Homo sapiens: one gene and its partners. The protein of the gene in region 1 interacts with the protein of each later gene in a biochemical or structural test. Each region holds a gene or a part of one and is shown in the gene's direction. Other genes may lie near its edges.

The links.
Region 2: the proteins of FGB (region 1) and LPA form a complex in vitro, tested with the Homo sapiens proteins (one study listed by BioGRID).
Region 3: the proteins of FGB (region 1) and NID1 form a complex in vitro, tested with the Homo sapiens proteins (one study listed by BioGRID).
Region 4: the proteins of FGB (region 1) and FBLN1 form a complex in vitro, tested with the Homo sapiens proteins (one study listed by BioGRID).

The regions. Positions count from the first base shown.
Region 1 is NC_000004.12:154,558,334-154,566,097, forward strand, and holds the start of FGB (fibrinogen beta chain isoform 1 preproprotein), read left to right. Parts: upstream 1-4,677; 5' UTR 4,678-4,685; coding exon 4,686-4,799; intron 4,800-7,474; coding exon 7,475-7,666; intron 7,667-7,764. UniProt on the Homo sapiens protein: Cleaved by the protease thrombin to yield monomers which, together with fibrinogen alpha (FGA) and fibrinogen gamma (FGG), polymerize to form an insoluble fibrin matrix. Fibrin has a major function in hemostasis as one of the primary components of blood clots.
Region 2 is NC_000006.12:160,584,150-160,591,603, reverse strand, and holds part of LPA (apolipoprotein(a) precursor), read left to right. Parts: intron 1-502; coding exon 503-660; intron 661-1,891; coding exon 1,892-2,051; intron 2,052-4,973; coding exon 4,974-5,155; intron 5,156-6,398; coding exon 6,399-6,558; intron 6,559-7,454. UniProt on the Homo sapiens protein: Apo(a) is the main constituent of lipoprotein(a) (Lp(a)). It has serine proteinase activity and is able of autoproteolysis. Inhibits tissue-type plasminogen activator 1. Lp(a) may be a ligand for megalin/Gp 330.
Region 3 is NC_000001.11:235,978,091-235,985,544, reverse strand, and holds part of NID1 (nidogen-1 precursor), read left to right. Parts: intron 1-39; coding exon 40-166; intron 167-3,762; coding exon 3,763-3,934; intron 3,935-4,891; coding exon 4,892-5,049; intron 5,050-5,599; coding exon 5,600-5,723; intron 5,724-6,437; coding exon 6,438-6,550; intron 6,551-7,454. UniProt on the Homo sapiens protein: Sulfated glycoprotein widely distributed in basement membranes and tightly associated with laminin. Also binds to collagen IV and perlecan. It probably has a role in cell-extracellular matrix interactions.
Region 4 is NC_000022.11:45,526,608-45,534,061, forward strand, and holds part of FBLN1 (fibulin-1 isoform D precursor), read left to right. Parts: intron 1-1,239; coding exon 1,240-1,402; intron 1,403-4,657; coding exon 4,658-4,717; intron 4,718-6,455; coding exon 6,456-6,557; intron 6,558-7,153; coding exon 7,154-7,291; intron 7,292-7,454. UniProt on the Homo sapiens protein: Incorporated into fibronectin-containing matrix fibers. May play a role in cell adhesion and migration along protein fibers within the extracellular matrix (ECM).

The DNA.
Region 1 (7,764 bases):
GGGGCATGGTGGCTCACAGCTGTAATTCCAGCACTTTGGGAGGCCAAGGCTGGTGGATCACTTGATGCCAGGAGTTCCAGACCAGCCTGGGCAACATGGTGAAACCCTATCTCTACAAAAAAATACATATATACATACATATATACATATATATATATATATATATAGAGAGAGAGAGAGAGAGAGAGATGGAGAGAGACAGAGAGAGACAGACAGGGTCTTGCTTTGTCACCAAGGCTGGTGTATAGTGGTGCAATCTCAGCTCATTGCAGCCTCAACCTCCCAGGCCCAAGCAATCCTCCCACCTCTCAGCCTCCCAAGTAGCTGGAGTGGCTGAGACTACAGGTGTGTGCCACCATGCCCAGATAATTTTTTCATTTTTTGTATAGATAGGGTTTCACCACGTTGCCCAAGGTGGTCTCGAACTCCTGGGCTCAAGTGATCCTTGGCCTCCCAAAGTGCTGGAATTACAGCTGTGAGCCACTGCGCCCAGCCCATATGCTTAATATATGAAAACTTTTAGTGATTGATTACATTATTTGAATATAAAGCTTCTCTTTCTAACCTGCAATTTATGCTTAAAAATAAGACAGCCAGTCTGATTCCTAAAAATTTGATCTTAATTTTCTCAACAAATGCCAAAAATCATCTCAGTCAAAGTTAATGAAAGGTAAAATGAGTACTATAGAAAGGACATCAGGTGTCTCACAGACTGGGCTGTGAAGAATCAAATTATTATGTTTGGACGTTTTGGTTACTTCTGTTGATGCAGTTGGTAGGCTTTCCCTCTAAAATGCTGCCATGGATATAACATCAGTCCAATTGACCCAGTTCCCTTCCCCTTCCCCTTCCCCTTCCCCTTCTTCTTCTCCTCCTCCTCCTCCTTCTTCTTCCAGCAAATATCAAATTTGGAGAGACAATCTGGTAGATTTAGCTTGCGTAAAGGGTCTGTCTACCCCTAGCTTGGTCACCTGTGGTTAGAGGGTCAGGGTGTTGTAGTACTGACAGGACCACTGGAGCTTCATACCTCCATTTTAGGGGTCATTCCAGGAGAAGGGAGCAGCACTCCCAGAGGTGTTCATTACACCCTTAATGGTTGTGGGTCTCAATGTGACAAAAGCAGAAGAGCATCTCTATCTTTTCTTAGCTCTTGTGATCTCCATCCTGTTGTAGGAGAAAATGTCCTATTATCCCTTATTACCATGCTCTATGTCAGCTCCCATAAGAAATGGAAACTGACATCTAAGCCAGTAGAGGGAGACATTCCACAAGAGATGGCGTCATCTCCTATTTCTTCCCCACCATATGCTTTCCCACTAAAGATGACCAACAAATTGCAGGTGTCACCACTGCACTGCTCTCAGGCTTGCCCCAAGAGCTCTGGTCCAGCCTGGCCTCCAACTCGTCAGTGTTAATCAAGGTAACACAAGGAAAATATATACAGAGACTAACAACTTATTACAGTACCTCAAAACCTATGCATATTTAGACAACGAGAATCAGTATTCCTTTTAGTCATTCGTTCATTTATATATTCATGAATTTGCTCAACCGATATTTATTAAATACTGGCTATGTGCCAGGTGCATGACATAAACTGTACAGTCATTCAAACCAAGTTTCAAGTCTAAAAGCCCTTTTCCTTTGAAGTTCGTTTCCCCCTGAAGAAAGTTAGATCCTTAAGTTACCAGTCCCAAAGCCTCACCTCCCCCAATCTTAGGCTCAACACTAATTATTGTAAGTAGTTTTCATTTTCTGTCTTTCCTTTTAGACTTAAGGCTTCGCCAAGGTCTCCCCGGCCCCCAGCAAACTACCTGCTATGAAGTAGATGCTCTGTAAATAGTTGTTAAGCACAAATTGCCTTGTGCTATGGAGACTGGGCCTGACATGAGTTGTAAAAGTATCAACAAGTGTATTGACAATGGGTATCGGCAAGTCTTTGCCCTTCAAGCCAGAGAGCTGCTGGGCAGGACAGATTATCTCTGTTTTCTCTGTCACTGATTTACTACCCTTGACTTATGCAATGACATCAGCTAATATGAAGAACACTGCACTGATGACCTCAAAATAACTGAACAAATAGTACTCCCTTTCCCCTCCACCAATGGCATCAACATTCTAAAAAAATTTAAGCATCTTAATAAGCGGTGTCTCTGCAAATATATTTCTTCCCTGAAAACATGATAATATTCTTTGTAATATTAGGCAATTTAGAGTCCCAGTGTAACTGTACATAACTCTACAGAAAAAAGACATATCTAACAAGAACTAGAATTACAAAAACTCATTATCACTGCATTGCACATGCTTCACACAGACATGAATACTATACCCACATATGAGGGTAAAAAGATAAGTGAAAGTAAAAGCTATGAGTGAGTGTGTCAGCCTGATACATTATGGTCCCAAGATGACAGGCTGGCCAAAATACTCCAAAAGAACAAACACACAAAAAGAAGGTAGAGGTAAATTTTTATAATGTTTGTATCCTGTTGGGAAATATAATGTAATGGGCACAGAGTGTGGACTGTAGAGTCAGACAGTCAGGGGTCAAGTCCTCATACCAGCACCTACTACCTATACACTCTGGGGTAGTTTACTTAACCTCTCTGAACCTGTTTCACCATCTGTAGAACATAGTGGTTTCAAGAATTAAATACGATAAATGACTACCATAATTTGGCATCTGAGGCATGTACCAATGACAGCCAGTTCACTCATTCATCCCGTAATTATGTATTGAACGCCTACTATGTCTGTCTTGCTCACCAATGCATTCCCAGCCCCTATCACACTACCCGTCACTGAGGAGACTCTCAAGAACTATTTGTAAGATGAATGTTAAGTCTGTGCTGTTATGGTGCATGCATGCTGGATTGAATCCATCCTCCTTCTGACCATGGGAAGAATGCCAATCAGAGTAGAACAAAGTAGGAAAGTAAAGGAACCTTCACTTTAGTGTTGAACAAGAGTCTATTATATACTAGAAAAAACTTTACAAATTTACAGACTTCTGAAAGTTAAATGATGATTCTATTGTTAGTTGATCAAACATCAGTCATTGAAAATGTAGTAATACGTTACCTCAAAAGAAAAAAAAAAGGTTAGAGTTTTCTTAACAGATAATTCTTTTTAAATCTGTAAGAATCTGTACGTCACTAAAATAAAATCCTGTCTAGATTATTAAAATAAACTTTGTTATCAGTTATATTTTCATGGAAAATATTCCTGTATATATTTTAATTAATAGCCACATAGATATTTGCTTTTTCTGTCAGATCATGTATCCCTTTAAAAACCATTAAAGCTAAAGAAAAAAATCTTAAAATATAATATTTACTCATTGCTAATAAAGGGAACACAAATTTGGAAAGACTCAAGTGAATATTTTTTCTTAATTTAAACTGAGTACTTTGTCTCTATTAAGCTAAGTTAAAAGAATTTGGGAGGACAACCTATGCTACCAAGAGAATAATTTGTTTCTAGGAATCTGAGTTAAAAGAATTTGGGAATGCAATCTCTGCTACCTGGAGAAGAAAGAAATGTCGTGGGTCCCACACCATTCTCAAGACTCTGTTTCAAAGCATTGTTTCAATACGCTGATCCAAACCCTGATAACCTGCCATCTTTTTAATAAAATAATTTATAAATTTAATGAGAATGTTTCACTTTCCATACAAAAAACAGAAAAATGCTTTGAATCAATGCACTTACTGGGATTTGGATTACTGACTGGTGTTCCTATTGATTCTTGTAGGAGTTATTAATCCTGATTGCAACACACAAGTGAACAGACAAGAGAGATAAATTTTGTGGCTTGTGGGAAATGAAGGAAAATGGGCCTCATTTAGTCTGTGAGCATACTAATTGAAATAGATGTATGAAGACTTCACCAGTGTTAAAATAACATTGTTTTTATAAATCATATGATATAAACTATATAACAATAAAATAGAATGTTAAACATGTATTTAATCATCATCATAATTTTGATTCAGAAATCTATAATTTATTAGTTATCTTAATAATGTTTAGAATTTGTTGAACATTTTACCTTATGTGAATTAAGGACAAAATATTAAAGCTATTCAGCACAAAAAAAGGGTCTTTCTGATGTGTATTTTTCATAGAATAGGGTATGAATTTGTTATTTTGTTATTTTGATTAATGTCTAAAACAAAAGATAAACACATTATGATATAACATTACTATTGATTTTAATGGCCCCTTTTGAAATAGAATTATGTCATTGTCAGAAAACATAAGCATTTATGGTATATCATTAATGAGTCACGATTTTAGTGGTTGCCTTGTGAGTAGGTCAAATTTACTAAGCTTAGATTTGTTTTCTCACATATTCTTTCGGAGCTTGTGTAGTTTCCACATTAATTTACCAGAAACAAGATACACATCTCTCTTTGAGGAGTGCCCTAACTTCCCATCATTTTGTCCAATTAAATGAATTGAAGAAATTTAATGTTTCTAAACTAGACCAACAAAGAATAATAGTTGTATGACAAGTAAATAAGCTTTGCTGGGAAGATGTTGCTTAAATGATAAAATGGTTCAGCCAACAAGTGAACCAAAAATTAAATATTAACTAAGGAAAGGTAACCATTTCTGAAGTCATTCCTAGCAGAGGACTCAGATATATATAGGATTGAAGATCTCTCAGTTAAGTCTACATGAAAAGGATGGTTTCTTGGAGCTTCCACAAACTTAAAACCATGAAACATCTATTATTGCTACTATTGTGTGTTTTTCTAGTTAAGTCCCAAGGTGTCAACGACAATGAGGAGGTGAATTTTTTAAAGCATTATTATATTATTAGTAGTATTATTAATATAAGATGTAACATAATCATATTATGTGCTTATTTTAATGAAATTAGCATTGCTTATAGTTATGAAATGGAATTGTTAACCTCTGACTTATTGTATTTAAAGAATGTTTCATAGTATTTCTTATATAAAAACAAAGTAATTTCTTGTTTTCTAGTTTATCACCTTTGTTTTCTTAAGATGAGGATGGCTTAGCTAATGTAAGATGTGTTTTTCTCACTTGCTATTCTGAGTACTGTGATTTTCATTTACTTCTAGCAATACAGGATTACAATTAAGAGGACAAGATCTGAAAATCTCACAAACTATAAAATAATAAAAGAGCAGAATTTTAAGATAAAAGAAACTGGTGGTAGGTAGATTGTTCTTTGGTGAAGGAAGGTAATATATATTGTTACTGAGATTACTATTTATAAAAATTATAACTAAGCCTAAAAGCAAAATACATCAAGTGTAATGATAGAAAATGAAATATTGCTTTTTTCAGATGAAAAGTTCAAATTAGAGTTAGTGTGTATTGTTATTATTAATAGTTATGAAACACGGTTCAGTCTAATTTATTTATTTGTAGAACAGTTTGTCCTCAACTATTATTTTTGCTGACTTATTGCTGTTAATTTGCAGTTACTAAAAATACAGAAATGCATTTAGGACAATGGATATTTAAGAAATTTAAATTTTATCATCAAACGTATCATGGCCAAATTTCTTACATATAGCATAGTATCATTAAACTAGAAATAAGAATACACAATAATATTTAAATGAAGTGATTCATTTCGGATCATTATTGAGTTTCAAGGGAACTTGAGTGTTGTACTTATCAGACTCTACATGTAAGAACATATAGTTAATCTGGTTGTGTGTGTAAAAACATATGGTTAATCTGGTTAAGTCTGGTTAATCATATTAGGTAAGAAAAATGTAAAGAATGTGTAAGACGAAATTTTTGTAAAGTACTCTGCAAAGCACTTTCACATTTCTGCTTATCAACTAAACCTCACAGAGATAGTTTAATAGTTTAGGCTTTAAAATGGATTTTGATTATTCAACAAGTGGCCTTCATAATTTCTTTAAGTGTTTTTCTTTAAGTATATACTTTCTTTAAATATTTTTTAAAATTTCCTTTTCTCTAGTAAAGCCAGACCATCCATGCTACCTCTCTAGTGGCACTCTGAAATAAAAAGAAAATAGTTTTCTCTGTTATAATTGTATTTGTAATAAGCAGATGAATCACATTTCTTAAAATTTGTTTTAGAGAGGGTAAGCTCTGACTAGGACCATGACTTCAATGTGAAATATGTATATATCCTCCGAATCTTTACATATTAAGAATGTATATAGTCAACTGGTTAAACAGGAAAATCTGGAACCAGCCTGGCTGGGTTTTAATCTTAGCACCATCCTACTAAATGTTAAATAATATTATAATCTAATGAATAAATGACAATGCAATTCCAAATAGAGTTCATCTGATGACTTCTAGACTCACAAAATTGCAAGAGAGCTCAGTTGTTGCTCAGTTGTTCCAAATCATGTCGTTTGTTAATTTGTAATTAAGCTCCAAAGGATGTATAGCTACTGACAAAAAAAAAAATGAGAATGTAGTTAATCCAAATCAAAACTTTCCTATTGCAATGCGTATTTTCTGCTTCATTATCCTTTAATATAATATTTTAAGTTAGCAAGTAATTTTAATTACAATGCACAAGCCTTGAGAATTATTTTAAATATAAGAAAATCATAATGTTTGATAAAGAAATCATGTAAGAAATTTCAAGATAATGGTTTAACAAATAATTTTGTTGATAGAAGATAAGACTAAAAGTGAAATTCGAAGTGGAGAGGACACTTAAACTGTAGTACTTGTTATGTGTGATTCCAGTAAAAATAGTAATGAGCACTTATTATTGCCAAGTACTGTTCTGAGGGTACCATATGCAATAAGTTATTTAATCCTTACAATAATCTTGTAAGGCAGATTCAAACTATCATTACACTTATTTTACAGATGAGAAAACTGGGGCACAGATAAAGCAACTTGCCCAAGGTCTCATAGCTGTAAGTCAACCCTACGGTCAAGACCTACAAGTAGCCGAGCTCCAGAGTACATTATGAGGGTCAAAGATTGTCTTATTACAAATAAATTCCAAGTAGAATCAACCTTTAATAAGTCTTTAATGTCTCTTAAATATGTTTATATAGGAGTCTAATCACCAATTCACAAAAATGAAAGTAGGGAAATGATTAACAATAATCATAGGAATCTAACAATCCAAGTGGCTTGAGAATATTCATTCTTCTTGACAGTATAGATTCTTTACAATTTCGTAAGTTCCAATGTATGTTTTAGGAATATGAGGTCATTACTATTCATAATCTGATACAGCTTTATCCTAAGGCCTCTCTTTAAAAACTACACTGCATCATAGCTTTTTTGTGCAGTTGGTCTTTCTACTGTTACTGAACAGTAAGCAACCTACAGATTCACTATCACCAACCAGCCAGTTGATGGATCTTAAGCAAATTATCAAGCTTGTGATAACCTAAATTATAAAATGAGGGTGTTGGAATAGTTACATTCCAAATCTTCTATAACACTCTGTATTATATTTCTGCCTCATTCCTTGTAGGGTTTCTTCAGTGCCCGTGGTCATCGACCCCTTGACAAGAAGAGAGAAGAGGCTCCCAGCCTGAGGCCTGCCCCACCGCCCATCAGTGGAGGTGGCTATCGGGCTCGTCCAGCCAAAGCAGCTGCCACTCAAAAGAAAGTAGAAAGAAAAGCCCCTGATGCTGGAGGCTGTCTTCACGCTGACCCAGACCTGGTGGGTGCACTGATGTTTCTTGCAGTGGTGGCTCTCTCATGCAGAGAAAGCCTGTAGTCATGGCAGTCTGCTAATGTTTCACTGACCCACATTACCAT
Region 2 (7,454 bases), on another chromosome or scaffold:
AAAACTGTATGTGAATAAATTCATGAATGTAGATCATGTGGATCAATTCCTTAGGTAAACAACAAATCAGCAAACCAGATACTGAATAGATTGGGTACTCCTATAGAAAGACATACAGATAGCCAGACAGAGAAACATTTGTACGTGCATAAAACAATCTACAAGACTCACTTCAAAATCTCTCAGTTAATCCAAAGTAACATATTTGGCAGAAGGTGGAAGGAGGGTATTCTGATCCTTTCTTGTACACATTGATGTTTTCTCTCGGTTTTCTTATGGAGTATAGACGAGTTTGGATGTGTTACAATAAGAATGATAATCTGTCTTTGAAATGTTCACAGTTGTTTAGAAGTTGAGGACGATTTGTGATTGTTACAGGACCTTTAGTGAGAATATTTCAAAGTCACTTTTTACCACTTTGTTACAACAAAATGTAGAGGATGTCTGGTGCCCTTGTATCTTCTCCCATCTCTGGTGAACTGTATTGTTTTGTAATTTGCAGTGGCCTGACCAGGAACTACTGCAGGAATCCAGATGCTGAGATTAGTCCTTGGTGTTATACCATGGATCCCAATGTCAGATGGGAGTACTGCAACCTGACACAATGTCCAGTGACAGAATCAAGTGTCCTTGCGACGTCCACGGCTGTTTCTGAACAAGGTAAGAAGTCTCTGGCCAGACAACCACACCCTTGGACGTTGGGATAAAAAGAGTTGCAAAATCTTAGTGATACAGAAGCCTTCCATGCTGCACGGGAATCTGAATGTGGACTCAGGGTCAGCCAATGGGAAGGAAGCCTCAGCGCCTTCTCTGGGGGAACCAGGGCTGAGATTTTTGGCACCCCGTGACAGGGTGGTGTCTTTAGGAAGCGTGCAGACCTTCTAGGGCACTGGATTTACCACTCCCCTGGTTATTCAATAGATTATTTCAGTGTCCTAGTGAAAATGGATATTCTAACATCCTGCCAAATTTGTGATGATTTACCAAGCTCATCATGAGCCTTTCCTGGTATTTCTTCAAGTAGACAGTACTCATTGCAAACTTCAGCTTTACAGTTTCAGAGGAATGTGGTTTTTGAGTCTGTCATCCTTGAGAAACCTGATATGACTTTACTTAGTTCCATATCCTCCTGGGTCTAGGTAACAGTACATAGCCAGCAAATGCTCTATCTCCCTGTCTACCTTAATCTTAGGCAGGTGCTGCACACCTAGGCTTTGATGGAAGGGATTTCTTAGTGTTCTTGCCCCTCCTTCTCATGGAACACGTATCTGTGTTGCTGTTTGTGAAGAAGAGTAGTGGATGTCTACTTTGTTGCAATGCAGGATCCTGGGCCCAAGATTTCCCGCCGTCCCTCCAAGGGAATAAAATTTTGGCCAGTACCCCTCTCTGAGAGACAATGTGTCTTTGCCTGGAAGTCCTAGATGGAGGACCACTTCCTGCCCCATCTTCCAGAAACTTAAGGCTTTGGCTTTGGAGGATCAGTGCTCTGGAGAAATGTGTGACGGTTTCATGTCTGCCCCCACTGACAACCACCACCTACAGCCTGCACCGCCTGATGCATGGCACTCTGGTCTCCTGCCTTGTTCTCAGGAACACCCAAAAGAGATCTTTGCCAAAGAACAGGCACATGAGTGCAATTTTGACTGATAGGCACTCTGATCTGTCCTTTGGTGCCCAGGTTTTAAAGAAAATCTTTCTAAAAACTCATTGAAGTTCCAGAATGCTATGAATCTTTGAGCTTTGTTATTGGCATGTCCATCTGCCTACTAATGTAGAACAGAGCATGGTCGTCATTTTCAGAGATGATGTCCTGTTTCTATCATGGATTTTTTTTCTCATGCTTCTGTGTTCTGGAAATTACTCAGTTTGTTTTCTCCTCTTTGAATTTCAGCACCAACGGAGCAAAGCCCCACAGTCCAGGACTGCTACCATGGTGATGGACAGAGTTATCGAGGCTCATTCTCCACCACTGTTACAGGAAGGACATGTCAGTCTTGGTCCTCTATGACACCACACTGGCATCAGAGAACCACAGAATACTACCCAAATGGGTATGTCTTTGAGTTTTCTCCCAAGAGAAACAGCCACCCACTTAAATTTCTCCTGGAAGAGCCATGCTTCCAGCTAACTTCTTATGACCCAATTTCTCTCAGACCCAGAATGTTGGACAGAATGTCTCAGGCTTCTTGCTTTGGGCACAGGGTCTGAGAGGAGAGAAATGTCAGGCCAGCTCTCTTTTCTCATAGTTGATAGAAGTAGGAGGATACTTGGAGGTGGTGAGGTCTCATGAATAGAAAGCTCAGAAGAACATATGACCATGTGCTTAGAAATAGCACCATTCCACAATGCCCACTAAAGACCAGTGAAATAGTTCAACCAGGGAATTCTGTCATTCTAATCTCCAAGCCCTGGAGTGAAGGTTGTGTTTGCCATGTTTGTCTTGGGTAACAAGTGAAGGATATCTATATTGACTTCGAGATCTTCCGATCACTTTCTCCTCTAACCTGTATAAACACATTGGGTTCTGAGAACAAGGTGTCTGAAAAGCTATGTGTTGCCAGCCCATGAGGGGCAAAAGGAGGAAGGCAGCTGAGAGTCAGGAAGTATAGAGATGCTGAAGAGTTACACATTCAGGAAGATGGACAGAAACCCATGTCTGGCTATGCCAGCCTTTCTGCCATGAAGGACTATCAAATACATGAGAAAACAGTTTTCACAGGTTGGACAACAGATATGGTAGGCTTGAGAGAACTGAGAAAGGGAATCAAAGGAGATCAACTTCATCATTAACCTGTCTTCCTTCCTGGACACAGTGTTGGATTGAAGGACAAGCAGATGGAGCCCAGCTGACCACAGCAGTCTTGCTTAACTGAGGAGAGAGACTGGAGTCTGCGATGCCTCAGGCAGCTGATGTGTTCTAGGCTGGCTAAGAATGAGAAGGGATTTGTGGAAGAAAGGAGCTCCAGGAATACACACAGAAGTCTCCTCAAGGCTTTGGCTAAATACAAAGCTGCGTATGCACAGGGAGAGTTTTCATAAAGAAAGAACAACAAAGAAAAGCTACTTGGGAAAGAACAACTGCAGGGGAACAGTAAGCTCAATGGAGATGCCAGAGCTCACATAGCACTGGGGGATATTTGAATTCTGACCACTCAGAGGAGAAACACCTCACTACATTTTGGGCATTCAGTAGAGACCAAAGAAAGCTGTATTTTGGGATTGGGATCATCTTATTCCTAGAATCAAGGTGACTCCAGAAAAACTCCAACAACCCTTCTTCCAAGCCAGTCTAAAAGGATCCAAATGATCTCCAAGTAAATTAACTGCATTCCACAAGAAAAAAAAAACTCAACCCCCCTTAGAGGCAAGGGACAAATACAAGTTGCTCAGTTATATGGCATTCCTATTGCGTTACTTCTATTTAAAAATTTAATAGAGACACAAGAAGCTTTCACTGTGATACATAACTGGGAGAAAAAATCACTCAACACAAACAGGCCCAGAAATTATAGAATTGATGACATTGGTGAGAACATTTAAAATGCACCTCTGAGAACTGTGTTTCAGGAAAATGTCAGCAAAAGCTGACCATGAGAGAAACAAAAGCAGAATAGCAAGAGAAAAGAAAAGAACCGGAGAGCCAAATGAAAATTAAAGAACTGAGAAAAGGTACATCTCTAATGAAGAACTCACTGGATGGCCTTATCATCACTTTAGACATTACGGTAGGAAAGGTGACCTAGAAAATAATTCAATAGGAGCTACACAAATCACAGGACAGACAGACAGACCAACAGACAGAAACACACACACACACACACACACACACACACACACACACACACACACACAAAGACTGAACCTATTAATCAACAGAGCCTCAAGGGCATCTAGGAAAAATCCACACATTTAATATATGTGTTAGGCAAGTCACAGAAGGAGAAGAAAAAGATATCATGACAGACATTATACTTGAAGCGATGATGGCTCGCAACACGCCAAATATACAGAAAACAAGAAACTCATAGTCAAGAAGCTAAATGACTCAGGTATAGAATTTTAAAGAGCAAAACTCTATGATTTACTGGGATATATCATAGTTAAGTTGCCTCAATTCAAAGCTAAAAAGAAAAAAAGGGGGTTCCTATGAACAACAGCTTTGACAGCTGTTGATCTAAGACCACAGCTTAAATATCTAGGCAAGGAAAAGCAAATAAGGCACAAGGAAAGAGGATGGAAGGAAATAGTCCAAACCAATGACATTCAGTGGAAAAGAAAATAGACCAACAAAGGAGTAAATCCATGAAACAGAAAGTTAGGTTCTTTGAAAAGTCTATATGATTGGCCAAAGTCTGGCTAAACAGATGACAGACCAAGGAGGGAGCATATCCATCACCATCATGAGTAACAGGAGAGAGATGCCATTGCTATAGCATCCTCCAGGTGTGAAAGCTGAGAAGTAGATATTGAGATCAACTGTATGTAAATAAATTCATGAATGTAGATCATGTGGATGGATTGCTTAGGTAAATAACAAATCAGCAAATCAAACACTGAATAGATCATGCAGTTTTATAGAGACTTACAGACAGCCTGACAGATAAACATTTGTATGTACGTGAAACAATCTCCAAGACACACTTCAAAATCCCTCTCGGTTAATCCAAAGGAATGTATTTGGCAGAAGGTAGAAGGAGGGTATTCTGATCCTTTCTGGTACACATTGATGTTTTCTCTCAGTTTTCTTATAAAGCATAGATTACTTTGAATGTGTTACAATAAGAATCATAAGCTGTCTTTGAAATGTTGACAGTTGTTTAGAAGTTGAGGACCATTTGTGAGTGTTATGGGACTTTAGTGAGAATATTTCAAATTTGCTTGTTTACACTTTGTTACAAGAAAACATAGAGGGTGCCAGGTGGTGCTGTATCTTCTCCAATCTCTGGTGACCTGTATTGTTTTGGAATTTGCAGTGGCCTGACCAGGAACTACTGCAGGAATCCAGATGCTGAGATTCGCCCTTGGTGTTATACCATGGATCCCAGTGTCAGATGGGAGTACTGCAACCTGACGCAATGTCCAGTGATGGAATCAACTCTCCTCACAACTCCCACGGTGGTCCCAGTTCCAAGCACAGAGCTTCCTTCTGAAGAAGGTAAGAAGCCTGCAGTCAGACAACCATACCCTCGGACATTGGGATAAAAAGATTTGCAAAATCTTTGTGATGCAGAAAACTTCCATGCTGCACAGGAAGTCGAAGGTGAAGTCATGGACAGCCAATGGGAAGGAAGCTTCAGTGCCTTCTCTGGGGGGACCAGAGCTGGGATGTTGAGTGCCTTGTGAGGGATGGTGTCTTTAAAAGGGGCACAGACCCTCTAGGACACTGGATTTATCACTTCCCTGTTATCAAACGAATCATATTAGTGTCCTAGCCAAGATGGATATTCTAACATCCTGCCAAACTTGTGAAGATATACCAAGCTCCTAAGCCTGTCCAGCCCTTTCTTCAAGTAGGCAGTGTTTATTGCAGTCTTCAGCTTTACCATTTTGAAGGAATGCCATTTTTGAGGCTGTTGTTCTTGAGAAACCTAACATGTCTTCATTAGATCCGTATTGTCCTGAGACTTTGAAGCAGTACATAGCCACCAAATTGTTTATCTCCCCAGCCTACCTTCATCTTGGGCATGCCTTCCACACCTAGGATTTGAGGGAAGGGATTTCTCAGTGTTCTCATCCCTGCTTCTCATGGAACATTTATCTCCGTTGTTTTTTGAGAAGAAGAGTAGTGGATGTCAGCTTTCTTGTAATGAGGGATCCTGGGCCCAAGATTCCCTGTCTCCCCTCCTAGGCTATAAAATTTTGGCCTGTACTCCTTCTCCCTGAGAGGCAATGTGTCTTTACCTACAAGTCCTAGATGCAAGATCCTTTTCTGCCCCACACCCCAGAATCTGAAGGCTTTTGCTTTGGAGGAGCAGTGGTCTAGTGTGCAAGGGTTTCATGTATACCCCCCACTAACAGCCAATCACCACCTATAGCCTGAACAGCTTGATGCATGGCACCCTGGTCTCCTGCCTTGTTCTCATGAACACCCAGAAGAGGTGTAAGCAAAAGACCATTCACATGAGTGTAATTTTGAAGTATAGGCACTCTGATCTGTTTTTTGTTTGTTTCTTTGTTTGTTTGTTTTCCAGGGTTGAATTAAAATATTTATGACTACTTATTAAATTTCTAGAATCCTATAAGTCTATTTGTATTTTTATTCTACATTTCAATTTGCATGCTAATATAGAAGAGTGTAAATTGTTAATCCTCAGATTATTCCACTTTGTGTGTCATAATTTTTTTCACATTTCCCTTTTCTAGGCAATACTGAGCTTGATTTTCTCTTTTAATTTCAGCACCAACTGAAAACAGCACTGGGGTCCAGGACTGCTACCGAGGTGATGGACAGAGTTATCGAGGCACACTCTCCACCACTATCACAGGAAGAACATGTCAGTCTTGGTCGTCTATGACACCACATTGGCATCGGAGGATCCCATTATACTATCCAAATGCGTATGTCTATCATGTTAGCCATAAAAGGAACAATAGTCAACTAAAATTTCTCTTAGCTGGCCCATGCTACAAGCTCACTTCCTAGGTCCAAATTTCTCATAGACTCAGAGTTTGTAGCAAAATGTCTCAGGAAACTTACTTTTGAGCAAAAGGTCTGAATGAAGAGAAGTTTTAGGATTGCTATCTTTCATAACAATTTGATGGAAGCAGCAGGATATATGGAGGTGGTGAAGTCTCATTAATGTAAAGCTAAGGAGATCAAATGACCAAATGCTGAGACAAAGTATCATTCCACAATGCCCACTAAAGGTCCATGCAGTCTTTCAACCATGCAATTCTATCATTCTATCCTCCATTCCCTGAAGTGAAATTTGTGTTTGCCATTTTTGACACGAATCAGAAGTAACAAATTCAGGCTGGGTGCAGTGGCTCAGGCCTGTGATCCCAACACTTTGGGAGGACAAGACGGGCAGATCACCAGAGGTCAGGAGTTCAAGACCAGCCTGGCTAACATGGCAAAACCCCATCTCTACGAAAAATTAAAAAATTAGCCGGTCATGGTGGTGGGTACCTGTAATTCCAACTACTTGGGAGGCTGAGGCAGGAGAAACACTTGAGCCTGGGATTCAGAGTTTGCTGTGAGCCGAGAACATGCCACTGCACTCCAGCCTGGGTGACAGAGCAAGACTCAATCTCAAAAAAAAAAAAAAAGAAGAAGAAGAAGAAAAGAAGAAGAGGAAGAAGAAGAAGAGGAAGAAGAAGAAGAAGAAGAAGAGGAAGAGGAAGAGGAGGAGGAGGAGGAGGAGGAAGAAGAAGAAGAAGAAGAAGAAGAAGAAGAAGAAGAAGAAGAAGAAGAAGAAGAAGAAGAAGAAGAAAATAGAAATGAGTGCATATAT
Region 3 (7,454 bases), on another chromosome or scaffold:
TGTAGATGGACCATTCTAACCACTGGTCTTCACATCCAGGCTAAAGTCATCATTGGACTGGCCTTTGACTGCGTGGACAAGATGGTTTACTGGACGGACATCACTGAGCCTTCCATTGGGAGAGCTAGTCTACATGGTGGAGAGCCAACCACCATCATTAGACAAGGTAAGTAAGCAAATATCATTTTTCCTTTTTGGTTTTGCTTCTAGCAGCCAAAGTGGCCATGTATGCCAGAGAAGAACAGCAAATGAAGCCAAACTTTCACAAACATTTCTCAGTCTTTTGTTGCATTACTACGATAAAGTGTGTAAAGTTTAGGCACGTTCTACTTTTTTTTTTCTTTTTTTTTTTGAGACAGAGTCTCACTCTGTCACCCAGGCTGGAGTGCAGTGGCGTGATCTTGGCTCACTGCAAGCTCTGCCTCCTGGGTTCACGCCATTCTCCTGCCTCAGCCTCTCGAGTAGCTGGGACTAAAGTCGCCCGCCACCATGCCTGGCTAATTTTTTGTATTTTTTTTTAGTAGAGACAGGGTTTCACCGTGTTAGCCAGAATGGTCTCTATCTCCTGACCTCGTGATCCGCCCACCTCGGCCTCCCAAAGTGCTGGGATTACAGGTGTGAGCCACGGCGCCCGGCAGGCACAATCTACTTTTCAGTGTTCAACCTCAATTCCTCAATTGAGGAAATTCCTCATTAAGGATGCCAATTTCAACCAATGACTCTGTGCTTTGTTTTTCATGCCTACCTTCAACAAATCAAGACTGTTTTACATGGGTATGATTTATCTAGTTGAAAGACCATTACAACAAAAATCCAAAGGCCTCTAAAAATTCCACTGTGCTGAAATGGTCAAGTATTACATGTTGCTTAATTCAGCGACTCATCAACTGACTTGGGAATATTTTTGCTCCTATGGCATTGTCATGCTGATGATATTTGTTCTGTGGAGTCACCTTGCGTTCTCTGCAAAATATTCACATCAAAGATACATCTTTAAAATAGAGCAGCCTCATTTTGTATTTCTTTTTACTTGGCACTGAATGTAGTTTTTTCTATTTTCAATGGAATGTTTCCCTCACAATTGATATTCTAGAAGATTTCCTGTGCCTGTGGAACAACTCCCGAAGCATTTTTTCCCTTCTTTGTTGCCTTCAGTAAAGATGATGCGGCAGGAATGAAGCTGAGGTTGAATTAACTATGTCTGGCTTTGGACATAGACCCTGAACCCTTTTCTGGAAGCCAACAGGCTATTTAAATCATGTCTTCCAGTTTTCATGCTTTGGTTTAGTGAAAAACAGTTTGAAAATGCCTATCTCCGTGTGTTAAAAATGTTATTGTTATTATCTATGATTTCATTTTAAAACCCAGTGGAAGAGGGGAATAGGTCATTGTTTGCTATTTCCTGTTGCTTTTGGAGCTCATAACCATCCAAGAACGCTGTAAGCACAGTAAGAAGCATTCCAAGCAAAAGCCTAGTTACTGTGAAAACACAGAATTAAACCAAAATGTGATCTTTGTAGAAGAAAGATCACTGGGAATAATTTTCTTTTTTTTTTTTTTAAGAGAGAAAGAAGCTTCCAGTTATCTCCTTAGCATGGTACAGGTTGGTGCTTCCCTAGTGAGTGAGAGTGACAGTTAGGTATCATTTTCATTTCTTCCTTATTTCATAACAGCCCGGATCCCAGGCTTTCTTTCTTTCCTTGAGTTACAGACCCAACCAAGTATCTCTAAAAAGTATCATATCTTTGAGGTAAGCAGTAAGGAATACTTCTTCCTCGGACTGCACATTGAAGGATAAGATTATCCAGACCTTTCCCTTGGAAGAGTAGCTCATAAAGAAGTATTTTGAGTTGAGGGAGAGGGGGTTGGTTGCTCTTGGGTTTGAGATCGGGACCAAGGCTGGTTCTAAGGAGACAATATGCACGGAGCTCATGGAGCTTCCTCCAGGTGCCTCGCAAAGATGCTCTCACAGAGCAGCCTATATTCTCTGTTTTATTTGCGTATATCTGAGTGGCTCTTGTCTCTCACACAGGATGTGCTCATTCCAAATATACTCCAGAATGACTTATTCTGTTTCTATCTGAAAGCCAGAAGGGACCTTTGGAGGTCAGTCTCACTGTCCCTGTTCATCTAGGGACATGGGAAATATTTTAATATTTTAAAAATCTCTACTTTGTGTTTAGATAATAAAGATCTTGTTCAAGTGGGGTTTCTAATTCTCAATAAACTTCCTCTGGCGGGCTTTCTTTCTGGGGGCTCTGATGTGTCCAGCATCCAAGGTCACCATCATATTAGGGCTCTGGCGAAGGCTAATGCAAAGGGGGCTGAGGGTCTGCACTGCTTGTATGTCCACAGAAGAACACAGTATTGGAGCCAGGTGTGGTGGCTCATGCCTGTAATCCCAACACTTTGGGAGGCCAAGGCGGGGGATCACTTGAGGTCAGGAGTTTGAGACCAGCCTGGCCAACATGGTGAAACCCTGTCTCTACTAAAAATACAAAAATTAGCCGGGCATGGTGGCACGCACCTGTAATCCCAGCTACTCGGGAGGCTGAGGCAAAAGAATCATTTGAACTCAGGAGGTGGAGGTTTGCAGTGAGCTGAGATGGCACCACTGCACTCCAGCCTGAGCAACAGAATGAGACTCTGTCAAAAACAAAACAAAACAAAAAAACCCACAGTATTGGAATGGTTGCCTCATACCCCAGATCCCTCAGGTAGGGTAGCCCCTTCTCCTTCCTGCTTATACTCCAGTCATACTAAATGACCTTCATTCCTTTAATCAGTAGAAGGGAAAGAGTCCTAAGTGATATCAATAAAACACAATCGTTATTATTAATTTAAAAAAACTATATAATAAAACACCAATGTAATCTTCAGCTTCCAGTAAAGTTAGATGGGTGCTGAGGGTTTGCAGTGAAGGTTCATGTTACCCAGTGGCAACTCCTGGCTTGAAAATCAGTTGCTATAACCCAGTAAAGACTGGGGTGTTATTTGTAATCACTGACACCCCTTCTTTGTACCCCTTATACTTGTATGAAAGTAATAGCAGCTATGGTTTCTTGAAAGTATTATTTCAATGACCTTTATCCCCGATAGCTAATGAACAAGATAGAACTATTTTTCCATTCCCTATCTTAAGATCTTCCACTGCCTCCCCTCTGCCTAAGTTCTAAGTTCATTAACATGGCCTCCTACCTTCATCTCTGACCACTCCCCCACCCTCATAGTCTCCAGCCACATACAATGACATCCTGTTCACTTTAAGCCACCATCCAGCCTTCCTTTATACCTATGTGCCAGTCTCGCTACCTAAAAAGCCCTCATCCAGGATCCTTGTTTGACAAACTGCTATTGGTCCTTCAGGTGCCAGCTTCAAGCAATGTCACCTCCCCCAGGAACCCCTCCCTGTTCTCCCCAGGCTGGGGTTCCTCCTCCAGGCTCCCATAGGACCTGGAACTCAGTCTCAACTGTGGTTGGCTGTGGGCTCATGGAAAACTGGGCCTCGGCTTAGTCATTGTTACTGTCCTGGTTCCCAACGTGCAGCATGATGGATACCCACAGAGTGAGTAAATGGCATTTTTGAATTTGTCACTTTGAGTGTTGTTTATCTTATAAACAACAAGCATTTCACATTCCCATTTGGTTTCTTAAAGTGCAGGGATTGGACACCATGTGAAATAACATTGAGTATTCAGAAAAACCTCATCTCAGCTGCTTAGAAAACAAAAAAAATTAGAGGAGCTCTGTGTTTACTTCTAGATCTTGGAAGTCCAGAAGGTATCGCTGTTGATCACCTTGGCCGCAACATCTTCTGGACAGACTCTAACCTGGATCGAATAGAAGTGGCGAAGCTGGACGGCACGCAGCGCCGGGTGCTCTTTGAGACTGACTTGGTGAATCCCAGAGGCATTGTAACGGATTCCGTGAGAGGGTATCTTTGTGTAAATATGTGTGTGCATCTCTTTGATTTGCATCTGCCCTTTTAGAGATTCTCAGATGTGAGGCTTTAACTCCAGCATTGGTCTCCTGAAATTAATGAGTACGGGACGAAAGAGTCTACAGTTTTGGTGACTTGTAGATATCCACGGTACAATGCCAGAACATGTATTACAGTGTGGACTTGATACCATGTCCCACTTTCAAATCTTTTGCCAGGAGACTTTACAAGTTGGCATGCTCAGAAATTGGATATTTTCCATATGGCTTCAATGTGGATCAACACTCAGGTTATATCAACTCCAGAAGAGTAGCAGGGCGGCATAAATGGACTGCTGAGGCTGCTTTCAGGGGCAGACCCAGACTGAACACCCTGGAGATCCCTTCCTGTGTGTTTCTTCGGCACATCCATGCTTTCTCTTCCTTCTTACTGCAAGCTCTACCTCTTACACAACAGGCTCTTAGTTCCTCGACACTGATTCCTTCCCTTTGAGACCACATCTCCTATTCTGTGGCCACTCAGCCTCCTCCTTGAAGGCAGGTACTTTGACCACAGCCCCTGCCAACATCTGCTTCTTGTCCTAGTCTGGTCCCCTGGGTCTGCTGTGCTCTCCTCCATGTGGGCCTCATGCAGGGAATTCCATATATTTATGCCAGTTATAGCCCTTTACTTTGTTTTCTTTTGCTAACAGCTTCATTGAGATATTATATGTCAGTTATGTTAAAGGGAACCAAATTTGTTAGTAACAGAATCACCAAACTCAAATGAGGAACCAAATTCAAGTATCTTTGCAAAAGAAAATGTGTTTTATCACCTCTCGATCCTTTCAGTCATTCTGTTTTCATGTCTGCCAATCACTTCATTGTAATTCTTTTCAAGTGTTTTTCATAAACTTTTTCTCATGCATCCTTATTATTTCTTTTCCTCTTTCCCCCCTTTTTCCTCCTCCAGGAACCTTTACTGGACAGACTGGAACAGAGATAACCCCAAGATTGAAACTTCCTACATGGACGGCACGAACCGGAGGATCCTTGTGCAGGATGACCTGGGCTTGCCCAATGGACTGACCTTCGATGCGTTCTCATCTCAGCTCTGCTGGGTGGATGCAGGTGATGGAAAGCTGGACACTGTCCAGGGCGGGTCTCAATCTCCTAAGTCAGGGGTGGGCAAACTAGGGCCCTGGGGTCAAATCTAACCAGCCACCTGTTTTTATATAACCCAGAAGCTATGAATGGTTTTTACGGTTTTATCTGGTACATTAAATATATACTGGTACAAAATTGTATAGATACCTGCATACTGTCCTTGGTTTTGCCTCCTGGCCTGCAAAACCTGAAATAATTTACTATCTGGTGCTTTAAGAAAAAGTTGGCCACCCTCGTGTTGTAAGTGGCACTGCACAGAGCCTGGAGTCACCCTGATACCGATAAGCAATTCACAACTTACATTAGTCTGCCCTGGCTCGTGCCTCCCCAGCAGAAGCAACACGGGAGGAAGAGACAACTTGCCAGTTTTTAAGAGCAAGCCTCATGTGTTCTCTGGGACTTGTCATTGTAATGCTTAATTTCTCCCACTCTTGCCCTCATTACTCTTGTTTTTTTTGCACAAAGGGGCCATTTCTTGTGTGAACAATGAATGAATTGTTTCCACTCCACACAGGCACCAATCGGGCGGAATGCCTGAACCCCAGTCAGCCCAGCAGACGCAAGGCTCTCGAAGGGCTCCAGTATCCTTTTGCTGTGACGAGCTACGGGAAGAATCTGTATTTCACAGACTGGAAGATGTACGTCAGCTGTAGCCATGGGGGCTGCGTGGGCCTGCCCCTCCACCCACTGTCTCTGGGAGGCCAGGCCCTTCCCATCTGGCCTCTTGGCTTGACTTTTGAGCCTCCAGAAATGCCCCCTCTAGAGATGTCCCCTCTCCCTTATCCTTCTGGTTGTCAGGAGCCAAGAGAGGAGCATGAAGAAGGAGGGAGGACAAGGCCCTAGGGGACAGGAGGTGCCATTTATCATCCAGATGCTCCTGACTGTGTGGTTTCAAGTCTTTAAACCTGGACTTCCTCAGCACGTCTGTTCTTTCCCCAGGAGTTGGCCCAGGGTCACGTGGCCGGTGGGCTCCATGTCCACTTCATGTCCCTGCTTCATTATAGTTGTTAAACTGCAATATTCCCACGGCCTCTTCCTGACTACCCCTTCCTGCAAAAGGAGGGATTAAACTGAGAAGACAACTGGCCAGGGGCATCTGTCTAGAAAGCTCATTTCCTGCCTGGGATCTAGAGTGGGAGGGGAGAGCTAACTGGTCTTTACCCTTTTGTAAAAAGCCAGAGAAATGCAGGCTTGACCCACCCCAGGGGAAGGAAGGGATGTCTAGGAAGAAGGCCATCATGTCTGTTTATGGCCTCCAGTTTATCCTCAAAATGACAAAGAGGCTGCCTTGTTTAGATACAAGTTCAAGCCATCAGATGTGTTTTCACCTTCTGCCCTTTGGTGCTTTGTAGGAATTCCGTGGTTGCTCTCGATCTTGCAATTTCCAAGGAGACGGATGCTTTCCAACCCCACAAGCAGACCCGGCTGTATGGCATCACCACGGCCCTGTCTCAGTGTCCGCAAGGTAACTCTCCTGTGCTGTTACTGTTGGCATACTGGGGGCACATGGAGGCTCAGAGCCCACACTCTGGCTGCTACCCGTATGGCCACTAGTAGCCTTGATTATGCCGTAAGAGAGATCCAGTCCTTTGCATCCAGGGTCTTCATTAGCAGGTGAACCAGTTAAATAAACAGAAAATATTAGGTCATGAAGTTGTCAGGATGAGGAAAAGCATTGAGTTTTGGGCTGGATATAAAAGCATAGGGTCTTCAGGTTCCAAATAGTCAGGTTAGGATATTACAATGTTAGGATCTCTGCTCCTTTAAAAGTCCATCCATCTGGCCTAACAGCAATAACAATAATTAATAATAAGAATTGAAAACATATGTGTGGCACTTACTGTGAGCTATGAACTTTACATATATCAACTCACTTAGAGTTCTAAATACTTTGTATTTGTTAGTTCATGTAATCCTCATAGCAACCCTGTGAGGTAGGTACTATTATTATGTTCATTTCATAAATAAGCAAACTGAAGCAACTTGCTCCAAGTCACACAGCTCACAGGGGCAAGTCCAGGCAGCCTGGCCCTGGAGTCTATGCTATGCTGCCTCTTGAAGGCCTCTCCCCTCACCCACTTTCCTTCTCAGCTTCCCTCATCTTCTTCTGTCAGTGTGAAGCTAGGAGTGCAAGCTACATAAAAAGAACTTTGCACTTTAAAATTCCAATTCTATGTTATAATCAGAGCTGGAGAACTTCCCCCTGAGATCTGTTTAATAGCCTTAGTAGAAAATCTGCATAACCCCCAAGTTGGGAATCAGTGTTTGTGTCTGGTTTAATGCTGATAAAACAAACAATGGATCAGCTCAGCTGACTGCCTAGCACAGTGTCCCCATTCTCCTGAAGCCTTCCTAGCATGGCTTCAAGG
Region 4 (7,454 bases), on another chromosome or scaffold:
GATTCCAGGAGAGGGTGTGGGAGCTCCTTTGTGGGGATTCTCCACATAGATTGGGCTGTGGAGGGACTCCGTGTGGAGGAGTTGGGGGTCCCGAGTCCCCTGCCCACCTTGGCCTGTGTGGGCTTTCACAGGGCAGGGCTCTGGCCCAGGAGAGAGCTGGGTGGGGTGATGGTGGGGGTGCCTGGGAACCAGGACTTTGGGCGTTTCATGACTGCCCCCGCACCCTCCCACCCAACACCCAATGCAGGGCTGGGCCTTGCAGATGCCGTCGGTCCGGCACACAGCTGTGCCCATGTCCCCAGACTTGAGAGGTGTGGAAAAAGCACAGAACATTCTAGCAGGAGTGGGAACAGATCTCTCTGGCAGATGAGCGACTTGTGTTTCCAGGAAGGATTACTCACACCCCAAAAGATGGATGAGGTGACTGATGCTCCCTACACTTTCTGGCAGCGGAGGGCGTAGAATAAGCAGCCTGGAAGACCCATCAGTGCCACATAACTGAGGCAAAGCTACACCTCCTGGCTCCTGCTGGGGACTGTTTAGAAAGTTCTGTGCTCCTCTTAGGATAACCACTTAATAAAGACTGAAGCAGGGCTTTTCGTGTGTCAGGGCAAATGTTGCTTCTGGGACTCAGGTGTGAGGCCACAGGGACTTGGAAGTAACTATTGGGACCTGGGCCCAGGTGGCAGACAGCCACCCTGTCCTTTGACCTTGCTTGATGACTCGTCTTGAAGTTCCTGTGCTTTCAAATGCACGGTGCAATTCCTGCTGCCAGAACCCCTCTAACTCAAAAACGGAGAGGCAGCATGCATGTGTGTCATTTTTCCGGGCATGGTAGAGAAATCTCAGACCATGCAAAAGGAACAGAACTTTGGAGCTGGTGCATGGTGCTATAAGAAGCTCCCTCTTCCTGGATGTGTGCGAGCAGAGCCGGGTGGTCTCTGGGCGGGGCAGGGATGTTGAGGGGTGCAATTGCATGTTGGGGTGGGGAGGGGAGGTGGATGCCAGGCCCTTTAAGCTTCCTTTCAAAACTGGGACCTAGATGATTTGGAGTAGGGGGATGGCCTTGCTTTGCTATTTGTTGCTGACATTTAGAAGTGGTATCTAAGCCAGACTTGAGTCATCACTCTACAGGTTGTGTGGACAGGGGGCTCAGAGAGGCCTCCCCTGAGGCCTCTCGTGGACCCCGCTGGGCTGTCTGCCCGCTCCTCCATCTGGGATCTCCACCTGTGTTTGCAGAGGTGCTGCCATTGCTGTCTGCTGGGGAGGGCGGCCCAGGCCCAGGGCCAGAGCTGCGAGTACAGCCTCATGGTTGGCTACCAGTGTGGACAGGTCTTCCAGGCATGCTGTGTCAAGAGCCAGGAGACCGGAGATTTGGATGTCGGGGGCCTCCAAGAAACGGGTAACTTTCCCCCTTCCTTCCCTAATGAGCAGTGTATTAAGGTTCTCCGGGATGTGTATATAGAGCGAGAGTGGAGAGAGAGAGATTTTAAGGACTTGGCTCATGTGATCGTGGGGCTGGCAAGTCCAAAATCTGCAGGGCAGGCCTTCAGGCTGGAGCCCCAGGGAAGGAGGGGCATTGCAGCTGGAGTTCAAAGGCAGTGTGCTGGCAGAACGCCGCCTTTCCCGGGGAGGCCAGTCTTTTTTCTCTGAAGGCCTTCTGCTGATTGAGTGAGGCCCACCCATGGTATGAAGATGATCTGCTTTTCTCAGCATCAACAGACTTACATGTTAATCTCTTTTTTTTTTTGAGACAGAATCTCTCTCTGTCACCCAGGCTGGAGTGCAGTGCAGTGGTGTGATCTTGGCTCACGGCAACCTCCGCCTCCCGGGTTCAAGTGATTCTTGTGCCTCAGCCTCCCGAGTAGCTGGGATTACAGGTGTACACTACCACACCTGGCTAATTTTTGTATTTTTAGTAGGGATGGGGTTTCACCATGTTGGCCAGGCTGATCTGGAACTCCTGACCTCAGGTAATCCACCTGCCTCAGCTTCCCAAAGTGCTAGGATTACAGGTGTGAGCCATCGTGCCTGGCCAATATTAATCTCTAAAATATAGCTTCACAGCAACATCCAGGCTAGTGTTTGACTAAATATTTGAGTACCATACCCCAGCCCAATTGACACTTACGATGAACCATTACAGGTAACACGTGCATCCGTGTCACCATTGCCTTAACTCAGCACGGACTAACTCCGGTTGTCGGAGCCATTCATGTTTGTGACCTTATCTGAAAGCCGCTGTCCTGGAGTGACGCTGAGTGCTTGGAGTCTGGGATCGGACAAATCTGTGCTCCCATCCGGGTCCTAATGTGTACCTTGGTCCCCTCATCTGGGAAGTGGGGATAGTTGCAGTCCTACTTCATCAGGTGCTGGGAGGATGGAGTGCGAGATTGGGTGTCAAGGGTTGGGTAGAGCACCTGGCCCCATAAATGTCTGCCCTCACCATCTGCCCTTGTCCCTTCAGCTGCCCGGGGCAGCATGGGTGGCTGGCCTTGCTCCCACTTCTTGGGTGAGGGTCTGATGCTGAAGATCGCACAGCCGACACGTGGAGGAGGGAGAGCCTGGCCTTCCACCTCCTGGCCAGTGCCCTCTCCATCTGGAGCTGACGATGTATGGGCGAGCAGCTGGGGGCCATCGCTGGCTAATAGCTGGCTATGCTCTGTCAAATCATAGACACTTACTCAGCAAAGGGGCATGTGACCCCAAGAGCAGCTTCAAGAGCGCTCTCAGCTGTGTGCCCCCCCGTTCTGTGTCCTCGCCCTGCATTTCTGTGTGGTTCAGTTACAGGGTTCAGGAGACTTTGTGGCTGTCCAGTAGCCTCTTACACTTAGGCCACGGTTTCTTGTGCTGTAACAGAATTAACCTGGAAGAAGGCAGGACTCCGCCTGGGCCAAGCTTGCTGTGTAGTTTTCGGCCTGTTCCCTCCTCTCTCTGAGCTTTGCCCCCACTCTCTTAAAAAATAAAAGAGGTGTGAGCTGGGCACGGTGGCTCACGCCTGTAATCCCAGCACTTTGGGAGGCCGAGGCAGGCGGATCACCTGAGGTCAGGAGTTCGAGACTAGCCTGGCCAACATGGGGAAACCCTGTCTCTACTAAAAATACAAAAATTAGCTGGGCGTGGTGGCGGGCGCCTGTAATCCCAGCTACTTGGGAGGCTGAGGCAGGGAGAATCGCTTGAACCTGGGAGGCGGAGGTTGCAGTGAGCCGAGATGGCGCCATTGCATTCCAGCCTGGGTGACAGAACGAGACTCAGTCTCAAAAAAAATAATAAAATAAATAAAGAGGTGGGGAGGTGCCGGAAGGGGCGAAAGGGAAGAACCCTCAGACCTGTAGTCTCTAAGTCAAGGTAATGGCTGTAGGGTCCTGGGTGACACGGAACCTTTCACTTCTTGTTCTTAGGTTTTCAAGTCCAGGCTGTAGGGCCCCTGGTCACAGAGGACCCGGGTCACCCGGGACTCATCTTTCACTTATTGTTCTTAGTTTTTCAAGTCCAGGGCCCCATGGATGCCACTGAGATGATTTCAGATGTTACAGTCATCAAGAGGGATTGGGGCCGCATTCTGCCTCATTCCTTGGCTTTTGAAATCAGAGACGACATTTTCACTTTAAACAAACCCAAACCATTCCTGCTGGTGGAGGATTTCTCCTGCATCTCGGGGGTGGATTTTCACTGATTTATGTCTGCAGCGTGAGCAGTCTCTGGGCTTTTCTGCAGCTCCAGATGTTAGATGTTTTATCTCTCCGTCTTTTATCTGCTTCAGTCCTTGCCCCAGACTATCCTCGCATGCTCCCTCCTCTGGGAGGGCTTCCTGTCTTCACAGCCGCACCTTCCTCCCACTGCTACCAGTGCCATGGACCCACTGTATGTTTCCTGGGGGCCATGCAGAAGGTCCCCAGACCAGTGCTGGCCTGCGACAAATAAGTACAGAAATGGAGAATAACCCTTTTCAAACACATAATAGCATTTGATAGAATCAATCAGGAGACTCAAGTTTTTACTGCGTGCATTGCTTTAGACTTGGAGGGCGTGTGTTGGTTGTTAGCAAGGCTGTGACTGCATTTGCTGAGATGGTCAAGTAATTTGGACTATGGGAATATCACCCAGCATGAAGTCAATGATTACAGGCCTTTGTGTCTGTGGTCTTTCTGTTATAACTGATCTTTTTTTTTTGAAACGGAGTCTCGCTCTTGTTGCCCAGGCTGGAGTGCAATGGTGTGATCTTGACTCACTGCAACCTCCGACTCCTGAGTTCAAGCGATTATCCTGCCTCAACTTCCTGAGTACCTGAGATTACAGGTGCATGCCGCTACACCTGGCTAATTTTTGTATTTTTAGTAGAGACAGCATTTCACCGTGTTGGCCAGGATGGTCTTGAACTCCTGACCTCAGGTGATCCGCCTGCCTCGGCCTCCCAAAGTGCTGGGATTACAGGTGCCCGCCACCACGCCTGGCCTATAATTGATCAGATATCAATTATACATTTTCAAGTGTAATTCTAGCTTAAAGAGGATAAAGTTAATACTTAGCTGTTTATATAAGATGTTCAAATGGGCATTACTGCCTGATAGTGACAAGAAGAGAGAATGTTGGGAGTTTCTTTTAAGATAAGATGGGTGTTTGGATAAATGTCTGACTTGGTCTTTTTCCCCCTTAGATAAGATCATTGAGGTTGAGGAGGAACAAGAGGACCCATATCTGAATGACCGCTGCCGAGGTGAGACTCGGGCGTCTCCCATCAGTTGGTATTTAAACAAACCCCAAGGGGCCAGCAAGGTGGCTCAGGCCTGTAATCCTAGTACTTTGGGAAGCCAAGGCAGGAGGATTCCTTGAGCCCAGGAGGTTGTGGCTGCAGTGAGCTATGACTGCACCTTTGCACTCTAGCCTGGGCAACAGAGCTGGACCCCGTCTCAAAAACAAAAAAACAAACAAACAAAAAGCAAAACCAAGGAATCTCGGTGCTGATCTCACTGGAAGTTGGAATCCAGGTTTTGCTTTGGTTTACCCTGCAAAGTACCCTTTGGCTGGGAGCCAGCCATGAGCCACTTCCACCCTGAGGAGTCGTGGACTCCCAGCTCCTCCTTCCCTTTCCCCTTCCAGATCTAGGGCTGGCTGGGGAGGGGAAGGGTGGGCTTACCAAGGAGGGGCCCTGGTGAGGCCCTGCTGGGGAGGGTGGCCCAGGCCCAGGGCCAGAGCTGGTGTGGAAAGCCTGCACGTTACCGAGCCCCCAGGCCTTGTGAAGGTGACAGAGGCCTCCCTCAGGCTCTCAGGGGAGAGGAGGGGGCTCAGCGTTCCCTGCCTTTGTGCCCCTGGAGCCCCAGCCACGGTTCTGTCACCATTGGTGATATTCATTTGCCTCACAGGGAGATGTCTGCACATTTAACTAAGGGCCTCGCAGGTTTGTTTTTCATATGATAAAACTGCTTTTCTTTCATGGAACATTCTGGCATGTCTAGACCTGCAGATCTGCCTCACAAGCTCTTTCAGTGGTTCCCCCTGTGGTTAGGGTGTTAATTAGGGGCCAGTTTAATTCTTAAATGATGCAGTCAGTGTACAGTGACAGTTGGTCCAGGGGCGCTGTCCAGGGGCCTGGTGGAGGGAGGAAGGGAGTGACCTAGAGCCCCAGCAAGCCTCAGGGCTATGGGAGGAGCTTTCTGGGGAGGGGAGAGCTGGTCTGCAAGGAGGAGGTGGGATTAGCTGGGAAAATAACCCTGAAACGGTCCTCAGGGAGACCTGAAGCCTTGTAAAGGGCACGGACCCACTGTAGCAGGGTACTGGGAGGCAGTGGGCTGGGGAAGGAGGTGGGGTTACAGGGCCAGAGAGAGGGGCCCTAGAAGCAGGCAGGCTGGCAGCAGTTAGAAGTGTATCTCGTAGAATCTTTCCCTGGTTGAGGCTTATCCTGATGAGATTTGCACTCTGAGCATCACTCTGGCCACCCTGTAGGAAGAACAGGTTGTGGGGTGCTTCTGGGCTATGCAGAAAGACCAGGTAGGAGGCTGTGGCCACAGCCAGGTGGGCAGCTGCAGGAACTGAGGCCATGGTAGTGGGCTTGGAGCAGTGGGACAGCTCGAGAGTTCAGTGAGGAGCAGGTACATGAGGCCTAGTTGGGGCCTGGCCTTCCACGTGGAGCCCACACCCCCATGTCTGTGACCGGCAGTGAGCTCTTCTCTGCTTCGCCCCTTCCAGGTCCACCCCAGCCTACAAAGGGCACCCTGCACACCACCTGATTTTCCAGACGGGGAGGTTGGGACCTGAAGCAGCAGCCCCTGGGGGGTGTCCAGAGCCAGAGCCTGGGGGTCTCCCAGTAGGGCAGCAGGTGGGCTCCAGCCAGGTCAGCCTGCCTTCCTGGGTTCGTCTGCCCAGAGGGCGTTTTCTATGACCCAGCCTGAACGGAGCTAGAAACCAGGCGGTGCCTGGGTGCGTCCATCCCTGGCTCATGCACGCTGTGCTTCCAGGAGGCGGGCCCTGCAAGCAGCAGTGCCGAGACACGGGTGACGAGGTGGTCTGCTCCTGCTTCGTGGGCTACCAGCTGCTGTCTGATGGTGTCTCCTGTGAAGGTAATGTCCCTATCCCAGGTGCCAGCAGGACTGGCCGGTCACTGTGCTTGGGAGCTCTGTGCTGGAGGACTGACCAGGGCCTGCCTTCTACAACCCAGACCCCATTCAGGGGTGGAGAGCAGCCCAGGACGCGCTTTCTCGTGTTCGCTGGAGTTTGCAGCGCAGAGGCCCCTGCCGAGACTTCCCTCCAAGACAATATAAGCACTGGGGTTGGGAAAGAGGATGGAGTTGGGGTCTAACCAGGTTCCGGATCCAGGATCTGCTGAGTGGCCTTGGGCACATCCTTCAGCCTCTCCTGGCCCCCGCGTCTGTGAGATGGGGGAGATGGAGAAGATGCTGCCCCTCCGTGGGGTTCTTGAGGACCACATAACTACAGTCTCAGAAAAAGCAGTAGATATGAACGTTAGCAGGGGAGAGAAATCACTGCTTTCGACTCCGTGCAGTCCACAGCCCGGATGTGCACATGGTGGACCTGAGCTCAGTTTGCGAGGGTGCAGGGAAGCACTTCCACCGTGGCTTTGGCACATTCCTTTCTAGGATGTATTAGGATGGGTCGTTCTTGCTGGTCACCCCCGCACTGCCTCGGTCTCTCCTAGATGTCAATGAATGCATCACGGGCAGCCACAGCTGCCGGCTTGGAGAATCCTGCATCAACACAGTGGGCTCTTTCCGCTGCCAGCGGGACAGCAGCTGCGGGACTGGCTATGAGCTCACAGAGGACAATAGCTGCAAAGGTACAGCATGCGCTCCGAGTCTGCAAACCTGGTCTTCCAGGCGTAGATACGGCGCGGTGGGAAGGGCAGCTCTGGGGTCTGGGCTCCCGCAGTCCTGCGCCCTCTGTGGCTGCCTGGGCGACTGCCTGCTCATCTGCAGGAGGGAGGTGGTTATACCCACCAG